2 linked regions of the Homo sapiens genome follow. The protein of the gene in region 2 interacts with the protein of the main gene of each other region in a biochemical or structural test. Each region holds a gene or a part of one and is shown on either strand. Other genes may lie near its edges.

What was found. The genes of interacting proteins can lie anywhere in the genome.
Region 1: the proteins of MOB1A (region 2) and PTPN5 form a complex in vitro, tested with the Homo sapiens proteins (one study listed by BioGRID).

What each region holds. Positions count from the first base shown.
Region 1 is NC_000011.10:18,788,776-18,796,636, reverse strand, and holds the start of PTPN5 (tyrosine-protein phosphatase non-receptor type 5), read left to right. Parts: upstream 1-4,838; 5' UTR 4,839-5,112; intron 5,113-7,861. UniProt on the Homo sapiens protein: May regulate the activity of several effector molecules involved in synaptic plasticity and neuronal cell survival, including MAPKs, Src family kinases and NMDA receptors.
Region 2 is NC_000002.12:74,168,876-74,175,898, reverse strand, and holds part of MOB1A (MOB kinase activator 1A), read left to right. Parts: intron 1-3,146; coding exon 3,147-3,313; intron 3,314-7,023. UniProt on the Homo sapiens protein: Activator of LATS1/2 in the Hippo signaling pathway which plays a pivotal role in organ size control and tumor suppression by restricting proliferation and promoting apoptosis.

The DNA of each region.
Region 1 (7,861 bases), on a different chromosome or scaffold from region 2:
GTATAAGCTTGCAAAAAAAAAAAGTGACATACTTTGCTACTTCAGATATACTAGTCTGTTTCTTCCCCTCTGAGATACTTATTTCAGCATTCAACAAAAATTTATTGAGTACCTACTATGTACCAGGCATTGTCCTGGACACTTAAGATATATCAATGAGCCTAACGGATGCAGATGCCCTGTGGACCTTGTATTCCAGTGGGAAAAAAACAGATATTTAACAGATATTAAAGGGTGAACATACAAAATAGATAAACTACCTAATCTATAGCTCGTAAATAAATTTATTAATATAGAATATATGTCATAAGAAATATATAAAATATGAGATAGATATTATAACATAGTTTATAAAGAAATTATCCAGTACATTAGAAGGTAAAATGTGTCATTATAAAAGAAAAGGAGAGATTGGGACTCCTGAAGGGAACGGGAGAAGGCAGGCTCTGACGTATTAGGTAGAGAGGTCAGGGGAGGCCTCAATGAGAAAATGACAGTGGAGCAAAAACTTGAAGGATATAAAGGCATTAGTTCTATGTAACAGATTGTTTCTTTTTGGCATCCCAAATGATCAGAACCAAATTTGAGGTTCAAGCACAGTACTCTAGAGGCCCCTGTGGTCTGTACGTTTGTAATCTTTTGTCCTCGAGAGGCAGGATAGGACAGTGGTTAAGGGTATCGGTTCCACTGTCAACCTGGATTCAAATACTGCCTCTACCACTTACCAGCTACGTGACTTAGGGCATCATATTTCATGTCTCCCAGCCTGAGAGAAATGCCTCCCTATGCTTCAAAATGAAGATAATAATAGTACTTACCTCACATGGCTCTTTTAAGGATTAAATGAAATAATGTACACAAATTCCTTTGCACACAAGAATAAACTCAATAAAAAAACAGCTGTGATTATTGAGCTTTGGTCATGTCACTCAACGTTTATTTACATTTTCTTTGGTCCTGATTCTTTATCCTCATTGATATTTTAACATTGTTTTATGGATCCTGCCCCTTTGGTAAGCTACTTCAAATCCTTTGTGGATTGGGGTAAGTTATAAGTAAGTAAATAAATACATAAATAAAAATCTGGATAGGGGGACATTTTCACTGAAGCAAAGCATTTCATTACCAAGACAGTGAATTGCAAGTGGGCCAAAAGCAAGAAAGATGGACTCTAATCTCTAACAGTCCACCAAGAACCACCAGTAAAACACTCTCTGGTTTCTCAGACCATCTTTTTCTCCCCATCTCCTCTTTCTTAAATCCCTCTTCTTCCCTCTATCATGAAAGGGTAAATGAGTTACACAAAACGGCTCAAGAAGACTCCTAAGTCGTCACAACCTCACAACTATTTCGTTGCCATGGGCCTCACAGGACTCTTCCTCATCAGAGAAGAGAAAGGAAATCAAAGCAGTCACTTTCCGTGTGTTGGCAGGGTGCTGGTTAAGTGAACAGAGTCAGACATAAGCTAGAATCTCGTTTAGTGAGCTCTGTGGCCTTGGGAAAGCCCCTGGACCTTTCTGTGCCTCCTATTCCTCCTTGGTAATAGCAGTCCCTCCTAAGGTGTTTTGGCAGATCAAACGAGAGAATGCAGGGAAGCAACGTGGATAGCTTATTTTTAAAGCCCTCAGAAAATGCTAGATTTCCTTCCTGAACTGCACCCTGGGGTAACACTCTTCAATAAGAGGGTGTATAGGGTGGAAACAGGGTGAGGAGACTAGTTTAGGTATATCCCTATCTGACAGAAACTCAATACAAGAAACAAAAGAAGAAAGATCTTTGTTGTTGCTGTTGCCTTACTACTTTCTAGAGGTATTGTCATACTTCTTCCTTCCCATAGCCCTTTAAGATGGGCATTATTATCCACATGTGACAGCTGGGGCTGGGCTTTGAACCCAGAGCACACAGCTAGGAATGTTTGCGAGGCACCGCTAGCTTTCCGAAGTTGCCTTTACAAGGGCAGCCATTAGCCTCCACCACAGGACATCAGAGGCAGCACTGACAGGAACCTGTGAGGCCCCAGTGCACCTGGAGTACCATGACTCTGTGACCCCTGAGCTGGGGACATCAAGAATCTGGGCCAGGCTGATGCCACTGAAGCTCTCTAAGCCCTACTTTCTCCCCTTCCTTCCATCAGCCCAAAGGGCTTTCATGTTAAGGCATCCCTGCTTCTGTGACCACGTGCTATGGAACTGGCTAGATCTGAATTTGAAACACACACCTCTTAAGTGACCTTAAGTAACTCACTTATTCCTTCTGCTTCCTCTACTGAAATTGGGGATGTCAAAAGGCCTACCTCCCACAGATGTCATGAAGATTCAATAGAGCAGTGCCTTGAGAAAACACAAAACACTACCTGGCACATACTAAAGTGCCCATGTATAGTAGCTGCTATTGTTCAACTGATGCAGCCTGGAGAAATCAGCCTCATGCCGAACCATGGTGATGATGCTCTCGGGGGGTAGGGAGCAGGTCCTGGCGTACAGGCTGAAATGTCTACTCACACTTCCACACAACCCAAGCAGTATGGCCTTTTTACCCAATATATAATCCTCCCCCACCCCACAGGAAACTCCTTGAGGGCAACACAGGGACCTAATTGGGTCTAGGTCTCTAGGTCTTTTCCTAGGGGAAAAAAAAAAAAAAAAGACCAATTGAGGCCCAGCCTAGGGCCTCCCAATCAGTGCCGTTGATCCACAAACATGTGCTGATGGGCCCTTCTGTGCTGGGAACTGGGGAAAGGGAAGACACCCCGCCCTACTTTCCAGGAGTTCATAGTGCACCTGGGGAAAAAGAGAAGGAACCACTATCACAGCAGACAGAAAGTAATGAGAGCTGAGTGTCCCTGGAAATGTGGGGAGAAGGAGGTGGTATTTAAGCTGGACCTTAAAAATTAGTCAAGACATGGGAGGGATGGCATTCCAGACTGAACAGGGACAACGTGAACAAAGGCCTAGAGACAGGAAAACACAGGGTTTGTTTAAAAAACAGATTAGTGAGGTGAGGCTGAAGGATTGGGATGGGAGGGGATTGAGATGGGAGCTGGCAATGAAGCCAGTGAGCCTCAGGGGCAGGGAACAGAAATAAAAGTCATAGCTGCATGGAGAAAATGAGGAGGGAGGGCCAGCAACTTTAAACAGGATAGTTACAGCAATTATCTTAGAAGCGACACATTGAGCCTGGGCAGGGTGGCTCACGCCTGTAATCCCAGCACTTTGGGAGGCCAAGACGGGCGGATCATGAGGTCAGGAGTTCGAGACCAGCCCGGCCAACATGGCGAAACCCCGTCTCAACTAAAAATACAAAAATTAGCTGGGCATGGTGGCGGGCGCCTGTAGTCCCAGCTACTCGGAAGGCTGAGACAGGAGAATCGCTTGAACCCAGGAGGCAGGGGTTGCAGTGAGCTGAGATGGAGCCACTGCACTCCAGCCTGGACGACAGAGCAAGACTCCGTCTCGGGGGCGGGGGGGTGGGGGGAGTGACACTTTGAAGAGGTAAAGGAGTAGCCGTGTGACTATCAGAGGGAAGAGTTTCCAGGCAGACAGACCAGCAGTGCAAAGGTCCTGAGGCCACAGGGCTGCCACGCCGATGATGCATTAAAAAGGCCAATGTGACTGGAGCGTGGGAGAAGGGGGAGGGTGGTAGAAAGAGAGGTTAAAGAGCTAAAAAGGAGCCAGTTCCTGAAGGGCTTTGCAGGTCATGAGGGGCCTTTAACTTTCCCTTGGATGAAATGGAGTGCTAGTGTAGGATTTCCAGTAAAGGAACGACGTGCTCTGACTTAAATTTTAAAGGATCGCCTTGACTGCTGTGTAGAGAATCAGCTGCAGGGGGCCAAGGGTGGAAGCTGGGAGACCAGTAAAGAGACTATAATGGAAATCCCGGGGGGCGGGGGTGGATGGTGGCTGGAACCAGGGTGGTAGCTACGTGGTGGCTCGCCTCTGATTCCCCGTGTAAAAAATGGAGTTTAGGATCCCTGCCCTGTGTGCAGCCCACAGCCTCAAGCCCCCATGGGGATGGAATGCCGGAAACCTCTGGCCAGCGCACTAGCAGCCTGGAGAATACGGAAGATTGTGGCAGGATTGTGGGGCACATGGGCAGCTCCCTGCTCGTCCGGGCCCCTGGTGCCCACGAGAAAACCAAAACAGGTGCGTGCCCCGCGCCGCACGTCAGGAGGGCAAGACTCAGTGGAGGGAGGGGCTGTCCACTCGCTCTAGCTCCCCAGAGGCTGAACAGGGAGAACTGGGAAAAAGGACGCCTCCTCAGCGTCCTAGAACGAGTCCTCGGCACCTGGTATTGCATGCGCCCTAGTATGGGGCCGCTCCACTTGCGCAGGTGTTGGCAACATGCGGGGAGCGCCACGGCATGCCCCCAATGAGCCGACTCCCTCCCCCAACTCTGCCCCCTTTGTCTCGCTGGCCCCTACTCCTTCTGTCTGCCTGTCTGTCCCGTCCCAGGTTCAGCGCGCACGGCCCTGCCGGGGTCCCTCTGGCAGTTGCCGTAGCCGCGCGGCCCGACCCGGGGCTCCCAAGAGGAGAAAAAATCATGAATGAAATGGATGCGCTGCTCCCACTCCTCCGCCCTCCTTGTCCAAGCAACCTTGGCATGGGGGCGACGACTGCGGAGACTCCGCGCAGAGTTGCTCGGGAGAGGGAGGCACCTGAGATGAGGTCAGGGGTTAAGGGTCTGTGATCCGGCCCCCTTCGTGCCCCGGGAGCAGGCCGCTCTCCCGGTCCCCCGCCCCGCCAGCCCTGCGCAATTCCCGGCGAGCGGCGGAAGCCCGCCCGGGGGCGGGGCGGAGCCGGGGCTGGGGGGTGCCAAACCCACCCGGCGGCTGCGCCAGCGACTCTGCAGCTGAAGCGCATTTGGTGAGGCGGTCGGGCGAGGGAGCGCGCACGGAGCGCGGGACGGAGCGCCAGGCGGACGGACCGAAGGACGGAGGCACCGAAGGACGGACGCCCCCGCACACGCAGACGCACAGAGCTCGGCGCGGCCCCCGTCGCATACACACTGGCACAGACACAAGCAGGGACACACGCAGACACACGCACACTCGCGCGCGCATCCTCCCGCCAGCCTGCCCGCCTGCTCGCCGGCGCCCGGAGCCCGCTCTGGCCGGTAAGTGCGGCGCCTCCGTCTGCGCCTTTGTGTGCGGAGCCGGAAGGTGGAGGGCGCGGGTCCCTCCTTCGGGCGGCCCCGCAACTGACACCTTCTCCAGCCCTCCCGGCCGAGGAGCCGGCGCCCGCCCCCGCCACGCCCCCGTGGGGCTCTGGGCGCCCGCATGCTGGGGGAGGGGTCCCCCATGCAGAGGAGGGGGCTTGTCGCTTGGTAGCCGGGAGGGAGCGGCAGCCACTCCCCACGAAGCCCGTGCGCGGTTCCGGGGAGGAATCGGGATAGTGGTTTGGGGTCTGAGCCTCTGCGGCCGGCGGAGGCTGGTGCGCGGCTCTGGGCTGCATCGCCTCTCCGGAGCCTGAAGCCCCTGAGGGAGATTGGAAATCGCCGCTAGCCTTCTGGCCTCTAAAGCGCGGCTCCCAGCCTTCCCATTGCTTCGCCTCCACCGACCCTTTAGCTTTAGCCTCCCGCGTCCCACCCTCCCCTAGAATACAAGCTTAGCGCGCTCCCCTCCCCCAGCATGCTGCTTGTTTCTGGTTGAGGCCCAGGCTCCTGCAAAACCGGAGATTGCCCGGGTCAGAGCCTTGGGAGGCTTACCTTATCAAGGATCACAGGGCTTAGAAGATCAGGGCCAGACGAATCCTGGGAACTTATTCAACCTTCTCATTTTACAGATGGGGAAACTGAGGCCCAGTAAGGTGGCGGACCAAGGTCACCAGAGAGTTAGTGGTAAAGCTTTCATTAGAATCTAGGGTTCCTGGTTTTCATACTCATGCTCCCCTCCTACACAACTAGATCCCACCCACATTGAAGCCCCAGAACCCCAAAATTCACCTGAGTGTACCACGAAAGTGTGTAATTCCAGCCCTGCCCCACTTGGAGGGGCAGGTGCCATTCATTTTCTACCTTCCCTACCTATGGTACCAAAAAAAGGGGAGAGGGGGCTTTAATTTGCTTCCTTCAACCTCAAAGGAGAGCTCTCATAACACTCAAACACTCCGGGTTTGGGATTCGTTTGGGAGAATGAAGAAGCCCAGGACCTGAGATCAGATTCCCAGGCGTTAGTCCTGATCCACCCAGGACACACTGAGCCTGAGTGTCCTCAGTTGGACCAGGTGATGTGGCATCCCAGGATTCGTCCTCTTCTCCACTGTGTCCTGACTGCATGCCCTCCCAGTCACCCTTCCCTCCCGCTTGAGGGCCAGATCTTCTACTCCAACCAGGCCCCTGTAGTCATCCCTTTGCGGAGGTCCCCACCTCTTTCTCCTTGGGGCTCGTTAAGGGCAGCCTCTTGGTGCTGCTGACAAAGCTGCTGGGGAAGCTTGAGTTACAATCACACCAGGTTCGGGTGGTTTCTCAGCACGCGGCTCCCTCAAGGGCAGCCAGGTGTCCCCAGAGCTGAGCCTGATGCCTGGTGCAGAGAGGGTGCCCCGAGAGATGTGTTGAAGGAGTACAAGCATAGACGGATGGTGAAGGGATGGAGTCAGTCACCTTGGAGGAGACTGGATGGAATAGTTGGCAAGGAGGGCAGTGTTCAGTCTCCAGGGACCTGAGGTTCTGGTCTCAAGAACTTCCTTTTTTTATTTTATTTCCATAGATTTTTGGGGAACAGGTGGTATTTGGTTTCGTGAGTAAGTTCTTTAACGGTGATTTGTGAGAATTTGGTGCACCCATCACCCAGAGTATACACTGAACCCAATGTGTAGTCTTTCATCCCTCATCCACCTCCCACCTTTCCCCCAAGTCCCCAAAGTCCATTGTGTCATTCTTATGCCTTTGCATCCTCATAGCTTAGCTCTCACTTATGAGTGAGAACATACAATGTTTGGTTTTCCATTCCTGAGTTACTTCACTTAGAATCATAGTCTCCAGTTCCATCGAGAACTTCCTTTTTGAGGGGGGTGAGCAGCTCATCATGGAGCTGAGCCAGGGTGGCCAAGTGGCAGAACTTCAGGGGCTGCCACTGACAGTGTAGTCCATGTAGATGGCATTGGCTATGAAGTTTACACAGACTTCATAATGAATGGTGGCCCCTGGGTTTTTGCCATGTAGGGATTTCTGCCTTGAGAGTGAAGGGATCTGGATTCCAGTCCCAGTCTCTTCCTCACTGGCTGTACGGTGTCAGTATATAACCCTTTTGGGTCTCAATTTCTCCATCCAAAAAAATAACATCATTGGATTGATGATGTTATGAACTATTTGGCGGTGGGGTGGGAGCACGTATTTATGTAACTGCTATGGGCTTCTTTTGCTTTATGAAGGAATAATTTCTGACTCAAGAATGATGTATGTAGAGTACTTAGTACAGTCCCTAACACATAGAAAATGCTCAGGAATTGGTAGCTAGTAATTCCACTAGGACTCCAGCTTTGTGGATATACCCTATACTTCTTCCTTTCTTCAGATCATCCAAGGACATGGGATTCTTAAGGCCTCAAAGTCCTCCTCCCTCAAAAAATTCCTTTCCCCCTGACCTATTCCTGGACTTCAGGCTCAGCCAGCATAAAACATCTGTGAAAACTCCCTGGGAGGATCAACACTTTTGTTTATTCAACCTTTTGTACGTTAGCGTAATAGAATTTCATAATTAATTTGTATGTAGTGTCAAAAGCTCTTCCTATACTCTGTCACTTACTCCTCATAAGACATCCGTGACAATAGTGTTATCATCCTCATTTTGCAGATAGGGAAATTAAGGCTTGGATTTTCACTTATCTAAGGGTGCATACCTCAAAAGTCTCAGATCCAGAGAGCT
Region 2 (7,023 bases):
TTCTATTCCATTCCTCTTCCTAGAAGTAATCACCAGTTTTGATGAGTTTAGTTTTTGATATTTTCTATGTATTTACAAAATGGGCTCCTGCTGTACGTTTGGTTGTGTATTATGTTTAACCATGTATTAGATCTTTCCCTGTGAATACGTGTACTCTGTCTGGTTTTCTTAACTTCTATACAATATTCCATGATATGGATGTACCATACTTTAATTCAATCCTCTACTGATAAACTTGAGGATTGCTTCTAGGTTTCTCCCTATTAAAAACAATCTTGGAAAAAAATTCTTATCCATATCTAGAGGAGATATTTAGAAGTAGAATGGATGGCTTGAGGAGCTTTTCAGTATTAATAGATACTACCATATTGCCCTCCCAAAATGTTACACTTTATACTTTCACCAGTAGTGTATTAAAATACTAGTTTCTCTGTACCCTAGTCCAGTGGTCCCTAACCTTTTTGGCACCAGGGACCAGTTTTGTGGAAGACAATTTTTCCACAGATCTGGTTGGGGAGATGGTTTCTGGATGATTCAAATGCATTACATTGATTGTGCACTTTATTTCTATTATGACATTGGAATATATAATGAAATAATTCTACCACTCATCATAATGTATAATCAGTGGGAGCTCTGAGCAACTAGACAATCCCATCTGGGGGTAATGGGAGAGAGTGACAGATCATCAGGCTTTAGATTCTCATAAGGCACATGCAATTTAGATCCCTTGCATGCACAGTTCACAGTAGTGTTCACGCTCCTGTGAGAACCTAATGCCTCTGCTGATATGACAAGAGGTGGAGCTCAGGTGGTAATGCCAGCAATGGGGAGCAGCTGTAAATACAGATGAAGCTTTGCTGCTTGCTCACTGCTCATCTCCTTCTGTGGGCTCCAGTCTGTGTCCTTGGGGTTGGGGGCCCCTACCCTAGTCCACATTTAATGTAATCATTTAAACTTTTGACATTCAGATTAGGGAAAAAATAAATCTTACTTTAATTGAACAGTTTTTCTCATGCTCATTGATTGTCATACTTCTGAATTGCCTATTCATCTCCTTAGCCTATTTTTCTAAAGGATTCCTTATATTCTTAACGAGTTACAGAAGCCCTCTATTATCCAGTTCATCCTTTGTAATATATGTTACAAGTACTTTTATTTGGTTACTTGTCTTTTTGCTCTGTTATGAAAGTTTTAATTGATACTATTTGAAATCTGTCCACTTTTTCTTTGAGGTTTCTGAGTTTTGTGCAGGAAGACTTTATGGATGGTGTGAGATAGGAATAAAAACATTTTTTCCTCAATAACGAGTTGTGCCTGTCTCATTTATTTTCCCTATTATAAACTTAAAGATGTTAGTGTTTCTTTTACTGTGGTTTGCTTTCAAGGCGTCTCAAATATTTTGATATAGAATACTGGATTTTTGAACTAAACCTCCCTGCGCCATTTTCTTTTTATCTTCCCCACCCCCCATTCCGCCTTACTATGTTGTCCTGGCTGGTCTCAAACTCCTGGGCTCAAGAAATCCTCCTGCCTTGGTCTCTCAAATGGCTGGGATTAGAGGTGTGAGCGACTGCACTTGGCTCCACCATTTTCTTTTTTCTTTTCTTTTCTTTTTTTTTTTTTTTTGAGACGGAGTCTCACTCTGTTGCCAAGCTGGAGTGCAGTGGTGCAAGCTTGGCTCACTGCAACCTCCGCCTCCTGGGTTCAAGCCATTCTCCTGCCTCAGCTTCCCGAGTAGCTGGGACTACAGGCGTGTGCCACCACGCCCAGCTAATTTTTGTACTTGTTTTTTAGTGGAGACGGGGTTTCACCATGTTGGGCAGGATAGTCTCAATCTCTTGACCTCGTGATCCACTGCCTCGGCCTCCCAAAGTGCTGGGATTACAGGTGTGAGCCACCGCACCTAGCCATGGCCCCATCATTTTCTTTTTTTTTTTTTTTTTTTTTGAGACGGAGTTTCGCTCTGTCGCCCAGGCTGGAGTGCAGTGGTGCGATCTCGACTCACTGCAAGCTCCGCCTCCCGGGTTCACCCCATTCTCCTGCCTCAGCCTCCCGTGTAGCTGGGACTACAGGCGCCCTCCACCACGCCCGGCTAATTTTTGTATTTTTAGTAGAGACGGGGTTTCACCGTGTTAGCCAGGATGGTCTCGATCTCCTGACCTCGTGATCCACCCGTCTCGGCCTCCCAAAGTGCTGGGATTACAGGCGTGAGCCACCGCGCCCGGCATGGCCCCATCATTTTCTATAGCACTTTGGGAGGCTGAGGCGGGTGTATCACTTGAGGTCAGGAGTTCGACACCAGCCTGGCAAACATGGCAAAATCCCATCTCTACTAAAAAAAAAAAAAATTAGCTGGGTGTGGTGGTGCATGCCTATAATCCCAGCTACTCGAGAGGCTGAGGCAGGAGAATCGCTTGAACCCAGGAGGTGGAGATTGCAGTGAGCCGAGATTGTGCCACTACATTCCAGCCTGGGTGACAGAGTAAGACTACATCTCAAAAAAAAAAAAAAAAAAAAAACCGAAATTGAGGCCAAAAGAAGGTTCAGTTTCTCAAGAAGACACAGTTAGTGTCAGATCAAGAACTAAAATCCAGGATGTTTCTCTGTACCAGACTTCTTCAGAGGGCATAGTAAAATTGCCTTATTTGTGGAATTGTGCTGCTAATCTTGCTTTTACAGGCAGGGGAAAAAAAGCATTCTTGTATTGTGATCATCATCTTCCTATCTTGGCATTTTTCAGAGAGTGTTTTTGTTTTTTTTGAGACTGAGTCTTGCTCTGTCACCTGGGCTGGAGTGCAGTGATGCGATTTCAGCTTACTGCAACCTCTGCCTCCCAGGTTCAAGCCATTCTTCTGCCTCAGCCTCCCAAGTAGCTGGGACTACAGGTGTGCGCCATCATGCTTGGCTAATTTTTGTATTTTTAGTAGACGTGTGGTTTCACCATGTTGGTCAGGCTGGTCTTGAACTCCTGACCTCAGGTGATCCCAAAGTGCTGGGATTACAGGCATGAGCCACCATGCCTGGCCCAGAGAGTATTTTTTATTTTATTTTTACAGGCTACTTTATATACCTAAAATTATGTTGTTCTACCTGTTCTACTTCCAGTCTTAAAAATTCATATACTTGCACTTTTAATCTTACAGCAGCAGCCGCTCTTCTAAAACATTCAAACCAAAGAAGAATATCCCTGAAGGATCTCATCAGTATGAACTCTTAAAACATGCAGAAGCAACTCTAGGAAGTGGGAATCTGAGACAAGCTGTTATGTTGCCTGAGGGAGAGGATCTCAATGAATGGATTGCTGTGAACAGTAAGTTTTAAAATGTAACTTTGCTGTTTTCTAGAAAGGTTTTGCTAAAATCTCTTTGTTAATGAATTTTCTTTTACAGTTAGAACTGTTTTAATATAACAAATTATCTGTAAAGAAACATTAAGTACAAATACATCCAAAGCTATGTTGCTCTTTTCAGAGTACTAGGTGGTAGTTTGTGAGGTTGAGTAGAGGGAGCTGAGGAGAAATGATGAGTGCTTTTGGGCAATTTCTAAGAAGAATAGTATGAAAAGCTGAGTAAGGTCAGATAAAAGATTGATAAATGAAAAGATTATGCCTGTTGTGGTCTGTGACTTTGTAGCAAATCCATCTACAGTTTTACTTCCACTCCCAGCAGTACTCATCAGCCTGCATATCCAGAAAAGTCAATTGCAGTTCATATGGACAGTTGATTGTTGTGACTTAGAGTGGCAGAGGGAATTGAGAGATTGGGAGAAAATGGAGGGATCTGAGCTGAAAGTCACTTTAAGTTCAAGAGAACAAGTGCATGACATGGGACAATATGCTAAGGCTAGAGATTTGAATGTGAGAGTCTCTCATTTCTGAGATGATATCATTTCTGGGTAATAAAGTTTAAATTAGAGATTTCAGATGTTCCAGGAATAAAAAGTTTAAATAAAAAGTTTAAAACTTTTTATTTATTTATTTATTTATTTATTTTTGAGATGGAGTCTTGCTCTGTTGCCCAGACTGGAGTGCAATGGCTCAATCTTGCTTCACTGCAACCTCCACCTCCCGGGTTCAAGCCATTCTCCTGTCTCAGTCTCCTGAGTAGCTGGGATTACAGGCACACGCCACCACACCCAGCTAATTTTTTACATTTTAGTAGAGACAAGGTTTCACCATGTTGCCCAGGCTGGTCTTGAACTCCTCAGCTCAGGCAATCTGCCTGCTTTGGCCTCCCAAAGTGCTAGGATTACAGGCATGAGCCACCACGCCCAGCCTAAAACTTCTTAATGGAAAATTTCAAACATATAAAAGTAGACTAAGTACAGTGAATTCCAGGTATTCATTCCATTACCCAGCTCCAACAAATATCAGTTTGTGACCAATTTTTCTTCTTCTATATGTCACCCTGATTATTTTAAGCAAATCCCAGACATGATGTTTTATCTATAAATATTTCAGTAAGGTATGTCTAAAAGACAAGAACTTGTAAAGATAATGACAATGCCATCCTCCTTTAACTTATCAAATATCTGGTCAGTGTTCACATTTTTCATGACTGTCCCATAAATGTTTCTTTTATTTTTTATTTTTTTTTTATTTTATTTTTTGAGATGGAGTCTTGCTCTGTCACCCAAGCTGGAGTGCAGTGGCGAAATCTTGGCTCACTGCAACCTCCACCTCCACCTCCCGGGTTTAAGCAATTCTCCTGCCTCAGCCTCCCCAGTAGCTGAGGGATTACAGGTGTCCGCCACCACGCCCGGCTAATTTTTGTATTTTTAGTAGAGAGGAGGTTTTGCCATGTTGGCCAGGCTGGTCTCGAACTCCTGACCTCAAGTGATCTGCCCGCCTCAGCCTCCCAAAGTGCAGGGATTACAGGCGTGAGCCACCGCACCTGGCCAAATGTTTTCTTTTTAAAATTTTTTTGCTTTAAAAATCTATGCTTTGTTTAAATCAGGATCCAAAGAGGCCTGTGTGTATGCTTCTTGAATCTCTTTTTTTTTCTTCAGAGATGGGGTCTTGCTTTGTTGCCCAGGCTGGAGTGCAGTGACATGATCATAGCTCACTGCAGCCTCAACTTCTGGACTCAAGTGATCCTCCCACCTCACCCGTCCGAGTAGCTGGGACTACAGGCTCACACCACCATGCCCTGCTAATTTTTTTTTTTTTTTTTGAGATGGAATCTTGCTCTGTCGCACAGGCTGGCGCGATCTCAGCTCATTGCAACCTCCTCCTCCTGTGTTCAGGTGATTCTTCTGCCTCAGCCTCCTGAGTAGCTGGGACTACAGGTGCCCGCCACCACACCTGGCTAATTTTTCTATTTTTAGTAGAGACGAGGTTTTGCCATGTTAGCCAGGCTGGTCTCGAACTCCTGACTTCAGGTAATCCACCCACCATGGCCTCCCAAAGTGCTGGAAAAAACCCAGCCAAAAAAAAACCTTTTTTAAAAAACTTTATTCAGGGCCGGGCATGGTGGCTCACGCCTGTAATCCCAGCACTTTGGGAGGCCGAGGCAGGCGGATCACGAGGTCAGGAGATTGAGACCATCCTGGCCAACATGGTAAAACCCCATCTCTACTAAAAATACAAAAATTTAGCTAGGTGTGGTGGCACGCACCTGTAGTCCCAGCTACTTGGAGGCTGAGGCAGGAGAATCACTTCCCGGGAGGTGGAGGTTGCAGTGAGCTGAGGTTGTGCCACTGCACTATAGCCTGGGCGACAGAGCAAGACTCCATCTTAAAAAAACACACACACACAAAAACAAACAAACAAACAAAACTTTATTCAGATTATCATCTGTTATTCTGAAGTCATTTATTGACCTTCAGCCTTAGATTTTTCTTTGAGACTTAACTGCTGTAGATCAGCAGTTCTCAAATTTTTTGGTCTCAGATCCACTTACCCTCTTAAAAAATTATTGATTCCCATAAATATGTACCATTCTGTGTTAATTAAAAAAGTAAAATACAAGCTGGGCATGGTGGCTCATGTCTGTAATCCCAGCACTTTGGGAGGCTGAGGTTGGCAGATCACTTGAGGTCAGGAGTTCGAGACCAGCCTAGGCAACATGGTGAAACACCAGCTCTACTAAAAATACAAAAATTTGCTGGGTGTGGTGGCACACACCTGTAATCCCAGCTACTGAGGAGGCTGAGGCAGGAGAATTGCTTGAACCTGGGAGACGGGGGTTGCAGTGAGCCAAGATCGCACCACTGCACTCCAGCCTGGGCAACAGAGTGAGACCCAGTCGGGGGAAAAACAAGGTAAAATACAAAAAATACAAAAAAAATTATTGAGAACCCCAAAGAGCTTTTAATTATATTGGGTATATCTCGTGATACTCTGTTGGAAATTAAAACTGAGAAGATGTAAATAGTTATTTTTATTTTTTATTTTCTCTCGAGACAGTATCGCCCTGTCGCCCAGGCTGGAGTGCAGTGTCACGATCTTGGCTCACTGCAGCTGCCTCCTGGCTTCAAGCAGTTCTCCCACCTCAGTCTCCAGAGTAGCTGGGATTACAGGCATGTGCTACCATGCCCGGCTAATTTTTGTATTTTCAGTAGAGACGGGGTTTTGGCATGTTGGCCAGGTTGTTCTAGAACTCCTGGCCTCAAGTGATCCGCCTGCCTCATCCTCCCAAAGTGCTGGGATTACAGGCGTGAGCCACTGCACCCGGCCCAAATTCATTTTAAAATAACAATAATAAACCCATTACATGTTACCATAAATATGTTTTTACGAAAAATGACTATTTTCCATAACAAATTTTAGTGAGAAGTATGGCATTGTTTTATATTTTTGCAAATCTTATTTAATGTCTGGCTTAATAGACACCTGGATTCTTATATCCGTTTCTGTATTCAGTCTGTTGTGATATTACACATCATGGAGCCTCTGGAAAACACCATTGTGCCCTCTTGAGAGAGTAAGAGTGAAAAGAACAATTAAAATGGTTTGACCTTACAGATCCTCCCTCAGATAGGGGATTCCTGGACCACGTTTTGAGAATAGCTCTTCTAGAC